Linked DNA regions of Homo sapiens. The protein of the gene in region 2 purifies or fractionates together with the protein of the main gene of each other region. This does not show direct contact. Each region holds a gene or a part of one and is shown on either strand. Other genes may lie near its edges. The genes, in order: ZMYM1, SALL2, PTCD2 and GFPT2.

Region 1 (6,032 bases), on a different chromosome or scaffold from region 2:
CCAGCTGAGATGTATAAATCAAAACCACAGCAGTGATTTTAACGTTTAAACAGGACAGTCTACAAAAAAGGAAATACAAATGGCTCAAACAAATAAACAGATACCTAACTTCATTCTTGTTTGTTTTAAAGAGATAAGGTCTCACTCTGTTGCCTAGACTCTGGAGCATAGTGGTGCAATCATGGCTCACTGCAGCCTCAAATTTCTGGGCTTAAGCAATCCTCCTGCCTCAGCCTCCCAAGTAGCTGGGACTTCGGGTGTGCAGTACCACACTTCACTAATTTAAAAAAAAAAAAATTGTAGTGATGAGGTCTTACTATGTTGCCAACCTCATCTTGAACTCGTGGCCTCAAGCGATCTTCCTTCCTGTGTAGGCCCTCAAAGGGCTGAGATTATAGGTGTGAACCACCACGCCCAGTCCCCAACCTTATTCTTAAGTGAATATACAAAATTCTACTGAGATTAAAACGCCATTTTTAAAGTAAGAGATTAGGAAAGATCAAAACATTTGATAACACTTACAAAGATTTAATAGGCACTCTCATGCATTGTGGGTGGGACTGTAAACTGGCACAATCCTTATAGATGGCAACTTGCCAATATCTATCAAAAGTAAAAATGCACATATCTTAACCTAGTAATTCTAACTTTAGATTTCCAGCTTACAGTAAACTCACTCATGTGCAATGTGACCTATATAAAAGGTTATAAAATGAATCATTATTTATAATAGCAAAAGGTTAGGAAAAAAATGTCAGCAGGGACTGCTCAAATATATTATGGTACATTCATACAATAACATCTGCAATTATAGACCAAGAATCAAGAAACTCTTCATGTAACGACATGGGACAATCTCAAAAATATGTTACACAGAGAAGACAAGCTGAAGAACAGTATACACCGTACAATACCACTTAGGAAAAATACCTCTAGAGGGATATTTAAGGAAAAGATAACACTTTTTGGGAAGAGAAAATGAGTTCTAAAGGAGGGAAGGAGACTTCACTGTTTATCGTTCTGTGTCTTTTGAATTTTGAACAATTTTGAAATGAAAACATCCCAATGGAAATACAAGTCTTTTAGGTAAGTTCAAATGAGCATGTATTATATTTCTTTCATCTGACTGATAAACTTTTCCACAATTTCATTGAGTCTTTCAGGCTCCATTAGTTTATTTACCAACTCCTGCTCAACAGCCATTAGGGCTGGGCCAGTAAGCTTCTCTTGTCCCATGGTATTACATAAATATGTCTTAAGACGAGGCAGGGTAGAAAATGAGTTCTCAGTACTTGCTGAAGTAATTGGCCAAGACAAAGCAATATATAATAGCTTTGAGAGACAAGGAATATTACTGTGAAGACCATGCTGAATAAACAAACAGCCGAGACTGACGAAGTTTATGCAACTATCATCTATGACAAAGTTAAGCTTTGCATAATGTCGATAAAATCTAAGTTCTGGGATAATGTCCTCATCAAGTTTATAAAATTCCTGAACATGTTTTGCTGTTGTTTCATTTAATGGTTCATTCCATTTAAATAACAGTTCTGAAATTTGCTTTATTTTGCAATAATCAAACTCCGAAAAACATAACTTTAAATTTTGTAATATAGTATCTAATCCTTGGTAATAGATATTAATTTTATATTGTTCTTCTGTTGAAGTAGGAAAAAACATATTATCTGAATTGCCAAGATCTACTGATTTCTGAATTTTTCTTCTTTTCTGAAGAGAAGGTTTTTCAACTTTAAAACCTTTACAGGTTATTTTTTGACATATTTCCTCTGTTCCATCCCAGATTGTTTTAAAGTATACGTCATTTCTTTCAGATGATAAACATTCCAAAATTGCTTCTATTTTTGAAGACAAAGAAAAAATGTCTATGGTTTTATTTTGAAGCTCTTTGGAAAGAATTCCTGTAACACTCAGCACTCGATACAGGAATTTCAAACAAAAGACAAATTCAAATTTGGAAACCAATGTCAGCAAATGACTCAATTCATCGGCGAAACTTGTATTTGAAGAATGGCTTGCTATAACTTCCAATGTTTCAATAATCTCTGGAAGACTGTCAATCACAGATAGTAATGTACGATCATGGACTGTCCAACATGATTGTGATATATGTTTCTTGCATGTTTTGTTTTGACTTAGCCTATAAATGTTTCGAAAATTTGCCAACATTTCCCCAGACATACAAATAGTGTTGAACAAAGAACTGAGAGTTTTTAGAGCACTTCGGAGTTCTTTTACTTCTTTACAAAACCTAATTATTGATAAATCCAAAAAGTGTGCATAACAATGTATGTATAAAGCTCTTGGTTCTTCTTTCTTGAATTCTGCTGCTATTTTATTAAATTTTATCTTCAAATTAGTGGTGCTATCATAGGCCTGGCCATGTATTTTATCCATATCAACTCCAATTTGCTGCAGATAAGTTTTGATAGTCCTATGTAAGTGGGTCCCAGTCATCTCCTCAGTATCAACAAAACCCAAGAATCTTTCCTTAATTAAGATAGCCTTTGATGATTTTTGTGGGTATCTTACACAAATTGAAAGCTGTTCTTTCATGGCACTATTGATTGTCTCATCACATATGATTGAAAATGCTGAGGAGTCATTGATCTCATTCACAATATCCTGCAACATTTCAGTCTTTATTATTTCGATAATATCACTTTGAATTTGTGTACTGTTATAGAAGTCAACTTGTGAATTCATAAGTCGAAATGTTTCTTCTCCTTTATCTTTTGCTCTCATTTCTAACAATTCTAAAAAATTGCCTTTATTCACAGATGAAACTGACTGGTCGTTTCCTCTTAAGGGTAAACACTGCTTTCCAAGAAATAAAATATTTTCAATTATAAGCTTTAGGTACTTTTTATTTCCCTCAATCTGTTTCGAATGAATAGATAAATCGTCACTGACAGCTCCATCACAAAATTGGTATTCTCTCCAAAATTCCAATGACTTCAAATGCATTTCACTTTTTTCATGCTTTCTGAATTTTTCCAGGGTTTTTTTCCAATTAGAAGTTCCGTGGGTTGCAAATGACTCTCTTCCACAGCTAAAATATTTTTGGCAGAACAACTGGCATGAATAACAGAATGCCACATCTTTTTTACTGTTTTCCAAACACTCAAAATCTGCACAACAAGATTTTTTAATACTTCGTGATTTACCTTTAACTTTTTGTACTTTGGATGTACATTTTGGGTGACATAGTTCATCACTTATTTTCATAGATTTCATATTGTCTTTTTGTACTTCTGTACTGGAACCAATTGCATGCTGACTGAATACTGATGAAGATGGTGAAACGCTTGGCTGTTCCGTACTACTACTAGCAACAGCATTACTGGGTTCACTAGGTGAACTCTTAGAAAGCTTTGGGAGAAAATGAGAAAAGAACATTTAACAGTTTTCAAAAATTAATTAAAATATCAAATATATCTACTCTAATAACATAGTAAAATAAATGGCTGAGTTACAGTATGAGCTCCACTAGGGGGAAACGTTAACAATTACGTATAACTTATTTATTTGCAATCTAGATTCAGCATTAAATGTTTGAAGGACCTTTTGGTATGTAATTGTCATAAAAATAATTTTTATTGCTCAGATGACTCAAATTGTGTAGTATTTTTTTAAAAGAAGAACCCAGAGGAAAAAAATACTTCTGTTTAAACAATCTACAAACATACACACACACCCCATATATGAATACATAATACATAAAATATATATTAAATATATAAATATAATATATAATAAATATACATTATAATATATTTATATTATATACAATATATTATAATATATTTATATTATATATTTATATTTTTATATATTATAGTATATATTATATATATATATAAAAAATCTGGGCCAGGTGTGGTGGCTCATGCCTGTAATCCCAGCACTTTGGGAGGCCAAGGTGGGCGGATCACCTGAGGCCAGCAGTTCGAGACCAGGTTGGCCAACATGGTGAAACCCCTTCTCTACTAAAAATACAAAAATTAACTGGGCATGGTAGCAGGCGCTGGTAATCCCAGCTACTCAGGAGGCTGAGGCAGGAGAATCGCTTGAACCCAGGAGGCAAAGGTTGCAGTGAGCTGAGATCACGCCACTGCACTCCAGCTTGGGTGGCAGAGCGAGACTCTGTCTCAACAACAACAACAACAAAAATCTGCTTATTAAAAAAAGACAGTGGTAAAAAAAGTTAAAACTTACATCCACAATGACATCTGCTGTTGCTGTTACTGAAGAAACTGTATCTGTTAAAATAGAGCATAAATTCAAGATCTTATATACTATAACCTATAAAATAGCATCATAAACTATATTTGCTTATTTCATATAAGAAACAAAAAGAAAATTTAGCATATAGACAGATTTATCAAGTATGACAAAACAATATTTATGTCAAATATCTTAACATCAACTTTTACCTTGTAAGACATCAGTGTTCATGATGGGCAAGGCAACATCGGTGTCTGCCAATGACACTATATTGCTTATAACTGGAGTCGTATCTTTCTTTGGAGAAAGAAGCTCTGTTGAAGTATCATGCACCACAGAAACAACACTTACTGACAACAATAAAAAGATTTCTTATAAACAAGGCAAAATCAATCATCAGAAAGTACTGTTTAGTAATACTGTTTAAAGAAATAATGCAAGCATCTAATAGCTTAAGGAATTGGTAGGTACTGAAGTAATTTTTATTAGGGCTTAGGAATAGCCAGGTTCTTTAGTATCGTATTTATAATTACAACATTACACTGAAAATTTACACTTCTCCAACATTTTATGTCTTTTACCTTTGTACACAATTTCCCAGTCCTTTTAAAGAATTTGTTTAAAATTATGAGCAAATTTTTCTGTGAAATTACTCATGAAGAAAAGAGATTCTGATTGAATCTCCTAATGGGCATCTATTTCAAACTCTTCCAGGATTCATAAACCTTAACATCAATGGAGCGCTAGGTTGGTGCCCAAGCCACTATTGCAGAAATTTCTGTAACAAGCCAGTTTGTATGACTTACAAATCCCAGAGGCATTAGTCACTCTATGGTCTATGTAAATAGCACCACTGGTCCTACATGAGGCTTTTTGATGGAATACTTAGTTGGCTCAGATTATTTGTGCTTTTTTATTATTGAGTCTTAAAGCATTTACAATCACTTCTATTTCATGTGAAAAATGTAATGAAAACTTGTTTTTACAAAACAGGGCTAAGTAAAACATTCTATATTCTAATAAAAGCAGTCTTGTAAATGTATTAAACTCTATATTGACCAAGTGCCTCCTATGTACCATGTTTTGCAGTAGGTGCTCAATATATATTGATGTAAACATACATATATTCATTTACTAAATAATCTAAAAAAAGACATGTATCTTTTAATTTTTATTATTATTATTTTTGAGATGGAGTCTCACTCTGTCACCCAGACTGGAGTGCAATGGTGCGATCTCGGCTCACTGCAACCTCCACCACCCAGGTTCAAATGATTCTCCTGTCTCAGCCTCCTAAGTAGCTGGGACTACAGGGACCCACCAACACGCCCAGCTAATTTTTTTTGTATTTTTAGTAGAGACGGGGTTTCAACATGTTGCCCAGGCTGGTCTCAAACTCCTGACCTCAGGCGATCTGCCCACTTTGGCCTCCCAAAGTGCTGGGAATACAGGCATGAGCCACCGTGCTTGGCCTACAAATATTAAATCTCTGGTGGTAAAGTAGCCTTCCTTTTATACAAAAATACTGAAAAACAGTTCTTTGCAACAAGTTTAGATTGTTTTGACTTTTAAAAGTCGGTTTAATTTGAAAATGAATCAAGGTTATAAATTAAAGTCAAATAATATTATTTATTAATAATTACTAAACCCCTACAATTGCTAAACAAACATTACCTGAAGAAGATTCCATCTTAGCTTTACTGTATGCAGAGAAACAATTAATAGAGCAGAAAAGCTCTGTCTTCCCCAAATCACTCGTAGTCTCAATCATTTCATCTGAGGGCTTC
Region 2 (2,767 bases):
TCCTAATGATAAGAATCCTCCTTTGTCTTGTTGGTAGAAATTATTAGGGTTGAATTACATTTTTTTCTTTCTGATTATGACATCAGATCTCAAGGATCATAAAGTTTAATTCACCTTGGTTCTACAGATTCGCTGATGTCAGAAGGCTGATCTGTGGTTTGAGAAAGACGGAAAAGAAACAGTTTCCAACCTCCAAACAAAACCCACAGAAAAGCCTGGTGGTGGAAGGTTCTAGGTAGAGAAAATCTAGACAATGACTGGACACAGTGGGCAAATGCCTACCTTTTGGAAATACAAACTCCACAGGGAACAATTTCCACAGAGAAGTTACATTAACTGAAGGTTGTCTTAGGACAAGGCTGAATAAAGTAAATATTTCAACACCATATGTTCAGCTTTGGCAGGAGATGTAGGTGGGAAGGGAATCTCAATTTTGGGGAATGCCCATATCACACCCCAGCTGGCTATGTAATCATGAAATAAGGAGAAACACATAAATATTTGGTTAAAACACCTTTAATGATAGAGGGAAAGACACTAATATCTCCCGTCTGTTCTTGACATTTTACTAGGTTAGGAAGCTCTGGAGCCTACAGCTTGAGGAGAAGCCATCGTTCAAGTCAGTCAATAGCAAAACCCTCACTCTCTCCTCCTCAGAACTCCTGTTCCAAATGATCCTATGTTAAGAGTAAATACTACAACTCATTACAAGACGGAGAGGCAGGGAGGACGCCACCTGGAGCTGGTCTCCCAAAGTCTGGGACTCTTAAGAACCAGACAATGACAAAGACACAAGCCCCAGCCTACGGATAGGCAAAATGGGTAGGGGTCTTGAAAGAGGAAGATAAGGAAAATACAAGGGGCCAGGGAATAAAGGAGGGAGTTATCTAAAACTAGAAGCATACTAGTGCTAGGAAATCCCCCATGATCCCTGGTACACCTCTGCACACTATGTCACTATTAGCCCAAAAGAATATTAACGAGAATGTCCAGACATTCACAAGAATTTGAGGCCTTTTCCCTTACATCATGTCCCTTTCTTAGTCACATAGGTACCAGCAAGCCCTATGTTCTAGCAACATTCCTTAACTCTCTCATCATTAGTTCATCAACCATGCTGACCAAAAATGCTCCTTAAAGATACGAACTTCACATTTCCCAAATATCTCCTGGGAGACCTCTTGGCAAGAAATCAGCTTGTTTCCCAACTTTGAGAGGTCATCATGAATGAGAAGCTGGAGAGGTCTTGGCACACTGACCAGCCAAAACCTTTACCTTAATGTGACCATCAGGGGATTTACTGGGAAAATTTTCCTATGCCCTTCCTTCATTTCTCCCTACTTCCTAGGGTTGGGTCACCAATTACTGGAGCATCTTCAGTACCGGCACCTTCTGGAGCAGGGGGAGGAAGAAGGAATGTACAGTTTGCTACTTCTTGTCTATGATGGGCTTCTCAGGCACTGCCTTGGGTGCAGGAGGCTGAAATAGGAGGGGGGCTGTCTTCTCCTTGGCTTCCCTGGATCCCATTGTTGGAGGCACCTTCCCAGCCACAGTTCCTAGGCCAAACAGCACTGGTGGGGCCAGGCTTGGAGTGGTAGTGGAGGTGGAGCTGGAATTCCAGGGCTTCATGGGCAGGCCATTTGACAGGAATGCCACATACTGGTTCTAGAAAGATAGGGGACCCATACCCACCAGCTGAGCAGAAAGGTCACCCCAGAGGAGTGGCACTGGGCCCTCCAGAGACAGCTGCCAGCCCTTTTTGGCTAGGCTGCAATGCCAAATGTAGGTGCTCAGGTGCACCTACCAAAGGGAAAGGGAGAGGAGAGAGGAGGGGGAAGAAGGGTCACACCAGGGAAGCTGGAGAGGGTTCCCCTTGAGAAAGCTGCAGAGAATCTATGTTCCTCAGGTACAAAGAATGAGGAGGGAAGAAAAATTCCTTAGGGGGCCATCCCCTTGTAAGCACAGTAATTTCCAAGCTCAGGGACTACAGAAAAGCCACTAGGGACATAACATGTTAAGAACTTAGAGAAAAAGACAAAATCAGGGCTCATAACTCTGGGAGGTCCTTTTGTGAAGCTGTTTCTGCTCTGTGGGACAAAGAGCAGCAGGTACAGAAAAACAGGCTCATGGGATCGTGGGGTCATCTTTTCGGGGAAAGGGGGAGAGCCCTGTGGAGGTGATGGAAGGCGAACAGCCAGGGACTAGAGAAAGAGCAGCAATATTCTGAGGGCCATGGGGGGCAAAGGGCTGTACCTGGTGGTGTGCCAGGAGCATATGCTTCTTGAGGGTAGCCCGCTCAAGAAAGCCCTGCCTGCAGAAAACACAAGTGAAGAGCGGCCCCTCCTTGGGGTGGGTCTTCTGATGCTCCTCCAGAGCTGCCTGGGAGGGAAAGGCCTGGCCACACACTTCGCAGGCCTTTCTGCTGCTGCTCTCTCCTGGCTCCTTTCTCATTGCCTCCTGCAGGCTCAGCTCCTCTACCAAGGTCACGCTGGTGGCTTCCCCTTCTGGGGTGAGTGCTGATGCCGGACTTGAGCTTCTCTCCGGTTTGCCCCCCTCTTCCTTGCCTCCTAAAACACCACTGCTTCCCTGCTCCATTGGCTGAGGCTGATCCAGGCTGTCAGGTGGTGGTGGTGGTGGCAAAGAAGACTGTTGAGTAGTTTTCTCATTACTGTCCATCTCCTTCCCAGCTGTGGCTGCTGCCGCCACTGTCCCCACCTCCTCCTCTGCCCCAGATGCCTCTTCTGAATCACCTCTCACTGATATTGCC
Region 3 (7,057 bases), on a different chromosome or scaffold from region 2:
CTCTAGTGCTGTGTGGTGTTTTTTTTTTGGCCTCCTAGAATCATAGAATGGTATGAATGGAAAGAATTATTGAATCCAGAGGTCAGCAAACTATGACCCTTGGGCTAAATGTAGCCTACAGCTAAGAATGACTTTAACATTTTTAAAGGCCTGTAAAAACAAAAACAAAGAATATGGGGCAGAGATCACATGAGGCAGAGACATATGTGGCCCCCAAAGCCTAAAATATTTACTATCTAGCTTTTCATAAAAAAAGTTTGCTGACTCCCAAATCTAACCATCTCATTTGTAAAATGAGATAGGTGATCAGTTCACAGCTATATAAGTCATATATATAAGCTATATAATACCAAAGTTGAGACTAGACTCCAAGTTTCTCAATTTCCACTTGGTTTTCTTTCCACTATAACCCAGCTATCCCCTTGTTTTGGAAAACTGGTATTGCTACATTCTTCAGGGGAGTTTTTCAACAGCCCATGTTCTTCTACTTCGCTTCATGTTCCTTTGTTTTCAGTATAAAGAGGTTTTGTGTGCCAGGTTTCCAAAGTTTAAGTGATACGAATGACAACAGTAATACATTAAACATTGATCATTTCACTATTTCAATGATCATTCACTAAACATTGAAGAAAGAGTTTCTATGGGCAAGAAATAATCCTGGTACAGTAATAATAAAATAACTTTTTTTTTTTTTTTTTTTTGAGACAGAGTCTCACTCTGTCACCCAGGCTGGAGTGCAGTGGCACAACCTTGGCTCACTGCAACCTCTGCCTCCTGGGTTCAAGCAATTCTCCTGCCTCAGCCTCCAGAGTAGCTGGGATTACAAGGTGCATGCCACCACGCCTGGCTAATTTTTTGTATTGATAAAAGAACGTATAAGTCATGGTCTCTGTCCTTGGACTTCATTTTCATGTCACATACGTTTATTAAAGAACTACTGGATACCAGGCACTGTGTTAGGTGGTGGGATACAAAGAAACCTCAAGGAGCTCACACTCAAGTGGAGAGAATGGAACGTGCATCTGCTAAGTACATTAAGCTGTGTCAGAAGTACCAGGGAGGTGACACAAATAGAGCAAAATTAAGGGATATCTGGAGGTGACAAACATCACTTCCAGTTTCGGTGATTGCAAAAGCCTTCACATATGAGGACAAAGTAGTCCTTGAGCTCACCAATGAAGGAAGCTAAGATTTCCATAGACAAGGACAACAGGGAAGATGGATCTAGCAGAGTCCAGCATGCGTGATGACTTTAAAGCAGAGCCTGAACCCAACACATTGCCTCTTGTTCTCACTATCTACACAATCACCAGAGAAGAGTGAAAGATGAAAAAATTACTTTTCCCATAAAACTGCCTGATATGGCTAACTTGAGTTTTCTAAAAATAAAAACATTTAAAATTAAAACATTTGCACCAGATGGAAAACAGATTTCAGAGGAACTGAATTTTATTTGTAGAGAGAAGAAAAATCCTCTCTCAAAGACTACACACAATGCTCTCAAAGTTAAGAGGAAAGAGTCTTACCAGTTTGTAGCAAATTGCAAAAGCAAGAACATAGGTATCTTTGGTGAACTTCACATCTTGGTTTTTCATCTCTATCAATACTTGCAAAGCACCTGCCAAAAGTGAAGAGTGGATCGCAGTGTTAGAGTTCCTCTACTGTTGGCCCCCAAAGCTCTCATCTGTTCAGCACCATCTACAGAAAAGTGTATTTCAACAAAATAAAAGCTATTCCTCAAAGTCATTTAGCAATTAACTAAATGTTGAAATAAACTATCAAGTCAAACAGGAAGAACTAATGTTTTAAAAGCTGCTTCACAATTTTAGCATAAGTAAAATCTGGGATATTTAGTTTAAGGGATGACATGCAATGCAATGTTTTCAAACTTCCTAAGGTCTCCAGAATTCAGCCACTTATCAGGGATATAAGAATCATTTTTTTTTTTTTTTTTTTGAGACGGAGTCTCGCTCTGTCGCCCAGGCCGGACTGCGGACTGCAGTGGCGCAATCTCGGCTCACTGCAAGCTCCGCTTCCCGGGTTCACGCCATTCTCCTGCCTCAGCCTCCCGAGTAGCTGGGACTACAGGCGCCCGCCACCGCGCCCGGCTAATTTTTTGTATTTTTAGTAGAGACGGGGTTTCACCTTGTTAGCCAGGATGGTCTCGATCTCCTGACCTCATGATCCACCCGCCTCAGCCTCCCAAAGTGCTGGGATTACAGAAGAATCATTTTTGCATGACTCATTTTTCCCCCTAGTTCCTATGCCAGCAAACATGGCAGAATTTTTCAGCAAATAGAAATTGCAGTACTTACTTTTATATTTGCCTTTGATAAATAACATATCCATCAAAATATTGAATGATGTGGAGTCTGAGAAGAAACCTCGTAAATGCTAACGAAGAAGAACAATACAGTTTGGTTAAAAGTTAAAACTATTTATTGAGGAGGTACTTTTACTGTCTCTTATCTAGCCAGGTCTTATTATTCTGCATGCTTTACTCATTTGGCCTTCTGAATTCTCTAATATATTTTATATACCCAGGTTTTATTTTTGAAAAGTTGGCCGGGCGTGGTGGCTCACGCCTATAATCTCAGCACTTTGGGAGCCCAAGGCAGGTGGATCACGAGGTCAGAAGTTCAAGACCAGCCTGGCCAACATGGTGAAACCCCGTCTCTACTAAAAATACAAAAATTAGCTGGGCATGGTGGTGGGCACCTGTAATCCCAGCTACTCAGGAGGCTGAGGCAGAGAATTGCTTGAACCCAGGAGGTGGAGGCTGCAGTAAGCCGAGATCACGCCACTGCACTCCAGCCTGGGTGACAGGGCGAGACTCCGTCTCAAAAAGAAAAAAAAAAAAAGAAAAAAGTTAAAATGCTGTCCACTCTCTTGGCTGTCATGCTGAGAGGTATAGCAAGAGATCTCTGGGTTTCATAATTACCATGAAGGACGTCTTTAAGGAACCGTCATTTGTCATGCTTAGGAGAAAAGAAACTAGCCAGTTAACCCTGGCAGAGTGGTCCTGGAAACTAGGTGCCAGCTATTAACATGAAATGGCAGCTATAAATATACTTGAGGACTAAGGCAGGAGGGTCTCACACAACTATGGTCTTTTTTTGGCAACGGATAATACAGAATTGATTATTCGCCTTTTGAAATAATTCTCCAAAACAGTGGTTCTCAACATTTTTTTCCAACTTGTCTGTATGTATTTATTTAATTGACAAATAAAAATTGTATATATTTGGCCAGGTGTGGTGGCTCACGCCTGTAATCCCAGTACTTTGGGAGGGAGAGGCGGGATCACTTGAGGCCAAGAGTTCAGGACCAGCCTGGGCAATACAGCAAGATCCCATCTCTTAAAAAAAATAATAAAAATTTAAAAAATTAGCTGGGTGTGGTGGCACAAGGCTGGAATCCTAGCTACTTGGGAGACTGAGGTAGGACGATCACTTGAACCCAAGAGTTATGAGACTGCAATGAGCTATGATAATAGTGCCACTGTATTCCCGCTTAGGTGACGGAGCAAGACCCTGTATCCAAAAAAAACCCCAAAAAACAGTATGTTGTTTTGAAATATGTATATATTACAGAATGGCTAAGCCAAGCTAATTAACATATGCATTACTTCACATACTCATTTTGTGTGGTGAAAGTACATAAAACCTATTCTTTAGGCAATTTTGAAGAATACAATACATTGTCATTAACTATAGTCACTATGTTGTACAGAGAAATCCCTTGAACTTATTCCATCTTACTGAAATTTTGTATCCTTTGACCAACATCTTGCTAACATCTCAACATTTTGTGTGCCATGATAATGGGACACATGGTATTCAAATGTGTCATTAAATGCCTTGCTCAAGTTCACTCTTTTCCGATCACCTACTATGCAGACCCTGTTCTAGGTGCTGAGAATAAAGAAATGATAAACAGGATATACACCCTGCTCAAAACCCTACTAGGGTTTATAATCTAGTAGAGCTTAAATTCTGGTGGAGAAGACAGTGAATAAGACAAGTGAAAAAAAATATTAATTTCAGCTATTAGTAAAGTCTATGAAGAGCAAGTAGAGAAGATGGATGGAAGGTAGTCAGGGAAGGCACTGTGAGAAGAGACCTCAGTGAGGTCAAGGAGGGAGCCTCAAGGATAAGAATGCAGAATGTTCCAGTTAGAGGCTGTGAGCTCGCCATGGCTGAGGAAGAACATGCAGGTCCAGAGTGAAGTCAGCAAGGGAGAAAGGGGAGATGGCACAATGGGCCCCCTAGGTCAGAGTCAAGGGTCTGGGTTTTCTTCTAAGTGTGAGGGAAAGCCACCAGAGCAGCCCCAGCCAATGGAAAAGCATTTTGAGTCACCAAGGATATTTTAGAATCACAATGTATGTGACTCTAAATTTTCAATTAGCCTCATTTAAAAAAGTAAACAGAAATAGACTAAATTATTTAACCCACTATATCCAAGATGTAATTTCAACATGTAATCAATATAAAAATTAACATACATTGCATTCTTTTTATAACAAGTAATTAAAATCCATCATATATTTTATACTTACAGCACATGTAAATTTGAGTTAGCCACAGTTCAATGACTCCATGTGGCTACCATGCTGGCAACACTACAGGGTTGTAAGTAGGGAACAAGAGAAGTTCGGCTAGAAGCAGGATTAGGTCCTATGTCACTTACTCGAATTTGTCCATTCTACTCCAGAAAATTTACCTATACATGACTTTTTCATATACAAGCAGGCTAAAAAAAACCCGTTTGCTTTCATCTTTTTTATTTTTGTTTTTATCACCATACTCATGGCTATGATTTATTACAGTGGGAAGCTTTTGTTTTCCTTTAACTGAAACATTAACATATGTTTATTAAAAATAGTCAAATAATACAAAAATGTATAAAGTAAAAAGTGAGAATTTTTAATAATTCTACCCCCTAAAGATAAAGTGATTTAGTGTCTATCTTTCCAGTATCTATGTATTTATATTTTGTTAAAATGTTAATGTTAATATGTGTCTTTTCTTATGGAACAAAAAAAAACAGGATCAAACTATCTGTACTGTTCCGAAACAACCTTTTCTCTGCTTACTAATATATTATGGGTATCTTTCTAATACACAGGTGTCATTAAATAGGAGCAAGTCTAGAGTTAACATGCCCACCATGTACAGAGAAAATTTTGTATAAAAAAAGAGTAAGAGGCAGAAGAACAACTCAACTTGTTATGTAAGTTCCTAAATATACAAAAAGGTACCTGGTGGCCAGCCGTGGCCCCAAAATTTAGCAAATGTTTCTGATTATGGGAAACACAGCCTCATGAAAAGCAGTCTAAGCTTACACTCCCCCAAAGTGATGTTTCTGTTCTCTACATGGCATCTAGTAATCAAAATGACTTCATAATGAATGAATGAATTTATAATGTCTCTAGGTCCTAGTTTCTTTATCTACAAAATGGAAATCTACCTTATCAGGGCTATTGTGAGAAACAAATAAAATGAAACATTTAAAGTACTTAAACACAATGCTGAAGACATAGTAAATATTCAATGAGTAGCTGTAAAAATAATTATTTACTTTTGTTTTTAGGAACAGAAAGTCAGAATATGTGACGGAAAGTATTTTGAAAATAGAAAAGCACTTCCCAAATGTAGTCTTCAACCAGAAAAATACAAATACAAAATCGAGAGGGAATACAGGTAAAGGATAGGAATGTCAGTCTTTAAATGGAGACTGTCTTAAGCTCTTCTCTATTGAAAGCCCCTAAAAAAGCAGGTGTACAACCCACATTGATACACATCCAAGGTAGGATCATCTGTACCTATACCTCCTCCACACTTGTTCTATATTACTCCACCCCCCTTCACACAAACTGACTGCAAGGAAACTTAAAAATGCAGAGATGTGCTCATTCAGCCCCAGCAGCCTTTCTTTGAAAATCTAACCCAGGAATAATGTACATAGAAGACATGCCTTTTCCAATATCACCAAAAACACACACATTGGCAGAGAAAACAATTAGGAAACAATAACCTGGTCTTTCATGAGCTCCACTGCAGATTCCTCGAGATCCAACTCGTAACACAACCTCACAAAAAGCGGTCCAAATTTATACTCCCCCAAAGTGAAATTTTTGTTCTCTGCATGGTACCTGGTAATGAAAATGATTCAATGAGCCAAAAGGTAGGACACAGGAAAAAGGACAGACACAGACTATGGCAGGTACTGTGCCAGGTACTGGGACACAACAGAGAACGAAGTCCTCTCACAGTCTGGAGGGGGAGAAATGGAGATTTCAGACAATCAGGAATCCTGGAGTGCAGAAGTACACCAATCATTTAAACAAGTAAACAGAATTTACAGCAGACTGACATAAAATAAAAGAAACAGAGGAAAAACGTATGTTGTAATCATTCTCTAAATTTAGAAACAACCCCTAGACTGAGTGTGAGCACACCTTAAGAAACAGCAGGAGTCTAGTAGCATCTGTAAGTGCATCAGAATGGGCCCCACCCAGAGGAGAACAAGGGAAAGAAGTGGGGGTGATGCTCTGTGCTCCTGGAGGCTGGTTTCATCCTCATATAGGATGGCAGACAACCAACAGTCACATTTACAATTTACAGCAACTCTCTGCTTTTCTAAGCTTGAGAAAGGTACACCTGGGCTATGATCACCTGGCTAAACAAATTAAATGTGGTTTTGAATGTTTAAGTTTTAGGAAAAGGCTAATCTCAAAGATAATGATGTCTTCTATGTGGCTTGAGATTTCTACAGGCAGCCAGTCTGCCAGTCAGAACTGCATATCACTACTGTAAATTTACTTTCAATAACCAATTCTTTTTGCTTTAGACACCAAGAGGACAATATATGACAAAATCAACACCTCATGATTACACATAAATCAGATTTTAGAAAGACTTATTCATTAAGAATCTTCATATTCATATTTCTTTCAGATTTAGATTCATATAATGAGTGAATCTAAAATACCTTGGGGAGAAGCGCTGATGATAAAACAGGATACTTTTTACCTTCTGCTAAAAATCATCGAGGA
Region 4 (7,057 bases), on a different chromosome or scaffold from region 2:
TCCGCAAGGCACCGCTGACTTTCAGACCCACGACAGCCTCCTGGACAGCAGCGGGGGCATAAGGGGTCCTTGTCCTCAGGACCACCAGCTGTGTCCGTACCCAGCCAGGAGGCCCGGTGCCCACTCAGGCACAGCAGGGGAGCTGACTGCAGTGAGAAAAGCTGCCAAGGAGTGTGGTTTTCACCATCTTGGCGCAAGAAAGCATAAATCTCATTTTCACCACGAGCCCTCTTGCGTAGTGACATCCCTTCGGTCACTTCTTTCATGAAGGAAGCTCTGTTTCTTTGCTTTTGCAGCTCATCCTCTTGGCTGGATCCTCCCTGCACTCTACTGCACTCAAGTGAATAAAATAGCGTTCACGCTGTGCTCTTATCATTTAAAAATAAAACACAGAATAAAATGAAGCTCCTTTCCCAGGAATTTCTCCTGCTATTTACATCAGAATTCCCTTTTGGAATTCCTTCCATCCATAAATAAAAGCTACAGTGAGAATCCACTTTTTTAAACCCATGAGGTCGGTAAAGATCAAACAGTTGGACAGTGAGAGTTTAAACTCACATACCCTCTTTGGAAAGCAATCTGGCAATCTCTCAAAATTAAAAATGTACACATCTGTGGACCAGAGCTGTTGGGCTTCTAAGAAGGTATCCAGCGGACTTTTTGCAGAGATGCATGTGCACACGTGCGAGGACAGCTGCTCAGGGCTCTTGTGGTTGCCAAAGACTAGTGACAGTCTGATGTCTGGCAAGCGACAGGCAAGGGACAGGCAAGGGACAGTGCAGCCACACAGCAGGGCCTTTTACAGGCAGCCCTCAACAGAGAGCAAGGGAAAGCTGTGCATTCTCTTGGAAGGCAATTTAAATCTCCAAGATGTGTCAAGGGAAAAAGAAGCTTGCAGAATATGAGTAAATTACGCAAGGGCTGGGGGAGGAGCATGGAGCATTTCTAGAAGGGCACCACGCCCAGAGGGCAGTCAAAGGTAGCCTCTGAGGTCACTGGATGTTGAGCAGAAACTTCCTTTCCACTGCACGTGTCCTCTTTAGATGGTTAAGACATTTCACCGTGTGCCATGGCACATGTGCCCCTATGTGAATTAGGTGGTGATGAGTACATCACCATTATCTAGATGCCAGATAATGTCTAAATAAGCAAAGACTTCATTCTATCCACAGGGGGATGTCCTAGCCAAGGCCTGAGGGTTAACATGGACCGACTGTTTGGACAGTGGTGTACATGACGCAGACCTGCCTGGTTCACCTGGATTTCCTGTGGCACAGGCATTCTGCTGAGTGGGACCTGAGAGCTTCTGGGTACAGGAGGAGTGACCGTGCGGCACCTGGGACCCCCAGCCAGGCCGGACCTCTGGCTGGTTCTGCTTTCCACCGGTGCTTGAACCCTCCTGGCATGTCCGAAGCACCAGGGCCACAATGGCCCTTCCCTCTGCAGGGGACGCCAGGCCTGCCCTGGCCAGGCCTTCTTGCCCCTCGACAAGAGGGGCCGGGCCCACCTGACTTGGCTGGTCCCCTGTTCCACTCCCCTGGAAGAGCAACGGCCATAAGAGGGCTGTAATAAGGGGCAACCTAAGCACATGCCCCAGCCTTAAAAACACCAGCCCAGGGCCACCCGCCTGGGTTGGCTTCCTCCCTGCTGCTGCCATTCACCAGCCAAGGCATACCCAGAAGCACAGAGGCCGTGGCCAGTGCCGGAACCCACCTCGAACCCCAGCTCCACCCCTTGATTTCAGTGCACTCTCCAGCAAGCCACTGAATGTTCGGACCTCAGTTTCCCTGTCAGTGAAACAGGGTGATGGCTACAATAGTGCCTGCCACAGGGCAAGGAGCTTGAGAAATTATCCCTTGAGAGATTTATCATTCAATAAAACCAAGGGGGAAATAGTACCATTTACTGTCATTTCATCTTGGCCTTCTGCCTGGGGAAATAATGGTTAAACCAAATGCGTTACTTGGTTGTGGCTTGGTCAAGATTTAATTCATCTGTAAGCAGTTCTCAGGCCCACAAGGCCGCGTTGCTGTACTAGGTGCTGCAAGCTACTGGGATGGACCCATCGGGGGGCCTCACTGAGCGCTCCAGGGAAGGACAGGGATGCACAGGGACCTCCCAAGCCCACAGGGGAGGTGGGAAAGGGCTTCCCGCTGGGGTGGGAGTAGGCAGCTCTTTGCAAGGCTGGCTCTTGCTAGCTCTTCGCAAAGGCGCCTCTGACCCATTCTGCAGGTTTTAGCAGATCTTTCCCACCACCTTCTCCAGCCACATAGCCCTGGTTATTCCACGCTGCACTTGCTTCCTTGTCTTTTTCTTCGGCTCCCCGCTGGATTGTAACCTTCTGGAGGATGGGACCACATCTGTCTCATCCATTGCTGAGTCCCCAGCACCTGGCCCAGGGCCTGGCACATCTTAGGTGCTCAATAAATCCATGTTGAGTGAATGAATGAACAGATGGAGGAATGCCAGAGAAGGTAGCCTTTGAGCTGGGTCTGAGACAGCCACGTTCAGCCAAGCATAAGCAGCTCCGCTCACTGGGACCCACAGCAAGGACAAGAGGGACACAGAGGCAGGAGGTCCCTGAGTGCCAGACCCTTACAATGGGAGCACGGTGCCACCAGAACTCTCGGTTAACCCCAAGATAATCAAACACAGAGGCTTACATCCCCCCGCACAACACCCCCGGCCCCATGCACCATGAGGATCCCAGGACTGGCATGAGGACAGCCTTCTAATCAAATGAGCCAGGGCCTAGGGAAGGCTCCCAGAACCCTGCTGGGTAAACCACCATCTACAGTGGCTCCCCGCATGCCAACCCTTCCCGAGCTTCACCTCCTCTAATCCTCATGACATCCTGTGTGAAGAGACTGTGGTTCCCAGGGATAGAGATGGCATCGGAGGCTCCACTGCCAAAGACTTGAGGAATTCACAGCCAGGTCTGCCTTTTTGCAAGCCTGGGCTCACCACTTCTACCCCCACCTCCCCACAATCAGCATAGAAACCTATCCCAAGAAGAAAGGTATAGCTCACACAGAGGGTCCCTGGCTTCTGAGGAGATGCCCGCCTAGCACCAGATGGGTCCAGGACAGGTGCTGCCCCCTGAGAGCCAAGCCCCACCACGGGACAGTCCAGCTTCCAACTCCACCTTTCTCCTCCTGTTCAGCCCCCACCCCACCAGGGCCTCGGTGACCACGGCAAGGCAGGTTCCAGCTACATCCCTCTCTCGTCTTCTCTGCCCCGCGGGCCCACCGCGTGACGTCAACCCCTCCTGCTGTCTGGCCTGAGCCCGCCTTGCTCCCCATGCCACCCTGCAGCTTCCGCCCTCTGGGTCCCACTCCTGCAGGGTGCCCTCAGCCCAGTGCGTGCGCCCCTGGGGCCCCCAGGCCTATGCACATGTGATGCCTTCTCCAACCCCCTACCCCAGATGAAGATCTTTTCCCTCCTCTGAACCCCTTTTTCCAACTTTCCGTCCCCTTTTCAAGGCATCTGTCACTTTCTACCTTGATCTACTGCTCTTTCCTAGCCTCCACTCCCAGGGCTGCCCACGGCGTAAGAAAGGCATCACTGGCAGGCGACAGGATTTTAAATGAGCTGAGAACGGGGCAGTAAATAACACCAAACTTCTTTGGGGGAAAGTTTTCCCCTTTCTGTTACTCTTCTTAGCTTGGAAATCTCCTTGCAGAACTGAGAGGGAACAGACATCAGGCCTAGCAAACCTGGGAGCAGTCTTATTTCTCACATTGAAGAGACAGGGGATGGACCCAGCCAGGTGGGGGATGCTGAGCGCCCAGAGGGGCTGGACAGGGAGGTGCCTTCAGGTTCCCAAGAGCCTGCAGAGGGTTGGGATTGAGAGGCCAGGAGAGCCGAAGGCAGGAGAGCCTGAAAATGCAGGCTTTATGGAAAGTCTGAGATACAGGAGCCTGGAGATCTTTCTAAAGAAAAGGAGCACTTTGCAACCTCTGCAAAGATGGCCCTGGGCCAAGCATCCTTCCTACCAGCAGGAGAGCCCAGGTGGCTTGGAGAAAGGCCCGGCCTGGGGGCAGAGGCTGCCCTGGCCCCACCACCCAGTTTGGTCATGTGCCCTGTGGTCACCCACCCAGAGCTTCCAGACAGCCTTTCAGGGCCCTATCCTCAAAATTGATAGATAAAATGAACCGGGAAAGGTCCCAGAAGGAGAGGGACCGAGAAAAACTCAAGGGGATTCCAGAAGGGATTCGACATGAGCCCTCCGAGAGGAGACTGTAGCCTCTTGGCCCCGGCTCACTGCTATATTCTGGGGCTTCCAGCACTTTCTCTGCACAAGGCCCGAGAGATCACACAGGAAGTCAGGAGCAAAGACATCATGAAGGGGCACGCAGGCAGGGCCTCTGAAGCTCAGGGTTCAACCCCCAAGTGACAGATAACGACAATGGCCAGCGCAGGGAGATGATATTCCCTGGACACCCAGCCAGAAGGTCAGCCACACTAGGGCACTGAATTCCTGGGATTTCCTCTACAGCCCCTGGAGTGCTGAGCGTGGGGGTGGAGGGGAGGGATGATTTGCGGCCTGGGGGATGGGGAAGACACCACTTCGCAGCAGCCAGGTTGGGCCCACGTTCTGATTCTGGTGACGCTTGTTTTGAAAAATCTCTCCAACTTTCCAAGCATCGGCTTCCCAACGAAAGCCCAGCCCTCACTCTGAGTGAGGGGACCGTTCCAGGGAGAGGCCCAGCCAGTGCTCCACACAGGACAGGTTGGCTCTGGAAGCTATGTCACCACCCACCCAGGCCAGGACTCACCCCTCAGAGATCTGTCTTTCTCCCACCATCTGTTGCTTCTCCGAACTGAAGGGGCTGACCTTTATAGTCCATGAGCCTCCTAGAGATTAGGTATCATCCCAGGTCCCAAACTGGATTACTTCCTGCCTCAACAGAAGAGTACGGCCAGTTGAATGTCTGCCTCAATGAGGGCTCGTGAAATTCCCGAGCGTGTGCACGTGTGTGCCTGGGCCTGCCTGTGTGTGTTGGGGGAAGAGGGACAGGTCCACTCTCCTGGGTGAGGCCCACAGGTGTGGAGAGTCCCCTGGGCCTTGGGCAAGGGCTGCTGAGGAGCTGTGGCCTCTCATACACTGGGAAAGGTCACTTGGTGAAGCAGGGATGACAATTCCTGCCACCTCCTTGCAGAAACAAGATCAAAGCTGGAGGTGCCGCGGATGCATGTGATCCCACGCCAGGCTCTTACAGAAAGACAGAGGAGCCTGCGGGCCTGGCGGGGGCCCTGAGCAGACGCGGCACCTGGCTCAGGGTAAGAAGGGGACTTGGCTCCCCTGGAGACAGCCCCAGACTGCCCCAGGCCTCTTTGGGACCCCAGGAGTTAAAGTGACCTCACCATTGGAATCCATGAGATAATAGACTCTGCTTCCTGTGGTAACCTGGACAGGACATTTCTTTTCTTTTTTTTTTTTTTTGTTTTCTTTTTTTGAGACAGGGTCTTGCTCTGTCGCCAGGCTGGAGTGTAGTGGCACGATCTCGGCTCACTGCAACCTCTGCCTCCTGGGTTCAAGCAATTCTCCTGCCTCTCCTTCCCGAGTAGCTGGGACTACAGGTGCGTGCCACCACACCTGGCTAATTTTTTGTATTTTAGTAGAGACAGGGTTTTACCATGTTGGCCAGGATGGTCTCGATCTCCTGACCTCGTGATCCACCCACCTCGGCCTCCCAAAGTGCTGGGATTACAGGTGTGAGTCCCCGTGCCCGGCCATTTCTATTTTTTAATAGAAAAGTTGCCAGTGTCCCTTTCATTCTTACAGTTTCACCAAAAACAAAGAGGGAAGTGATATATATTTAATTAAAAGAAAAAAAAATCTTAAGAAAAGAAGGGGACAGGTACAGTGGCTCATGCCTGTAATCCCAGCACTTTGGGAGGCCGAGGTGGGAGGATGGCTTGAGCCCAGGAGTTCAAGGATGCAGTGAGCCATGATTGCCCCACTGCATCCCAGCCTGGGTAACAGAGTGAGACTCTGCCTCTAAAAATAAAAATAAAATACCTAAATAGTTTAATTGTTTTATTGTGAAATTCATTTTCAGAATTTTCTCTCAAACTTATAACCTCAAATTAATCACTCTTTATAAGCTAATTTTGCTAGATACAAAAATAATCTCTCAATTGAAAAGCACTGTTTACTGATGCTATACCATAAAGTTATAAAAAGAAGGTTTTTCTGAACTTGGGAATCCCCTGAGGAGACAGTGGAGGGCTGCAGCCAGCACAGAGACTGGAGCGACACAGCCACAAGCCAAGGAACGCGGCAGCCCCAGGAGCTGGGAGAGGCCGGCGACAGATTCTCCTCAGAGCCTCTGGAGGAGGCTCAGCCCTGAAGGTACCTTGATCTGGGCCAAGTAAAACCGATTCTGGACTTGTGGTCTCCAGAACTGTGAGCGAATACATTTCTGTTGTTTTAAATCAGTAAGTTTGCAGTCATTTGTTACAGCAGCCAGTGGAGACGAACACACCAACCAGGACAAAAGACGGTGATGTCAAGGCAAGGGCTTCACCTTCTGGCAAGAACTAAGAATTCTCCAGCTCTTCACAGTGATTGTTTTTTTTTTTTTCTCCCTCACAGATTACTAAGTGCAGTATGGGACGCACAGGGACAGTTTACAAATTCGTGGATGGGAAGCGCAAATCCTTCCTGCCAAATCCCCATGCATGCCTGGTCCATGCTGCCACACTCCAGCTCATGCTGTGCCCCAGCCCAGCGTGCCTGCCACCCCCTCCTCTCTGCAGGGCCCGTGCTCGTGTCTGGGTCCTTGTGGCACTGCCCCAGGTCCCTCCCCTTCTTCCTAGGAAGGTCAGCTCCTGCCTCTGTTGTGCAGAGTCCCATGAGTGAGGGAGGCAGCTGGGAAGGACTGGGAGAACAGGCGAGTTTGTGTCCATCACCCAAGGGGTCACCCAGGCCCTATTTGGAAATAAGGACTCCAGGTTGCTCATCTTCAGATTTTGTCAAGAGAAGCCAAAACTCCCACCTACTTATGTGAAATCTCCCAATTTTGTACTTTGGTAACTAATAGAGGAAAAG

What was found.
Region 1: the proteins of SALL2 (region 2) and ZMYM1 purify together in Homo sapiens (affinity purification with mass spectrometry; 2 studies listed by BioGRID and IntAct, with this or other methods). This does not show direct contact.
Region 3: the proteins of SALL2 (region 2) and PTCD2 purify together in Homo sapiens (affinity purification with mass spectrometry; 2 studies listed by BioGRID and IntAct, with this or other methods). This does not show direct contact.
Region 4: the proteins of SALL2 (region 2) and GFPT2 purify together in Homo sapiens (affinity purification with mass spectrometry; 2 studies listed by BioGRID and IntAct, with this or other methods). This does not show direct contact.

The regions. Positions count from the first base shown.
Region 1 is NC_000001.11:35,110,335-35,116,366, reverse strand, and holds the end of ZMYM1 (zinc finger MYM-type protein 1), read right to left. Parts: coding exon 5,920-6,032; intron 4,596-5,919; coding exon 4,455-4,595; intron 4,281-4,454; coding exon 4,237-4,280; intron 3,391-4,236; coding exon 1,108-3,390; 3' UTR 508-1,107; downstream 1-507.
Region 2 is NC_000014.9:21,520,580-21,523,346, forward strand, and holds the end of SALL2 (sal-like protein 2), read right to left. Parts: coding exon 2,125-2,767; 3' UTR 1,666-2,124; coding exon of another isoform or gene 1,429-1,665; 3' UTR 501-1,428; downstream 1-500. UniProt on the Homo sapiens protein: Probable transcription factor that plays a role in eye development before, during, and after optic fissure closure.
Region 3 is NC_000005.10:72,330,355-72,337,411, reverse strand, and holds part of PTCD2 (pentatricopeptide repeat-containing protein 2, mitochondrial), read right to left. Parts: intron 6,155-7,057; coding exon 6,037-6,154; intron 2,395-6,036; coding exon 2,316-2,394; intron 1,619-2,315; coding exon 1,527-1,618; intron 1-1,526. UniProt on the Homo sapiens protein: Involved in mitochondrial RNA maturation and mitochondrial respiratory chain function.
Region 4 is NC_000005.10:180,343,302-180,350,358, forward strand, and holds part of GFPT2 (glutamine--fructose-6-phosphate aminotransferase [isomerizing] 2), read right to left. Parts: intron 1-7,057. UniProt on the Homo sapiens protein: Controls the flux of glucose into the hexosamine pathway. Most likely involved in regulating the availability of precursors for N- and O-linked glycosylation of proteins.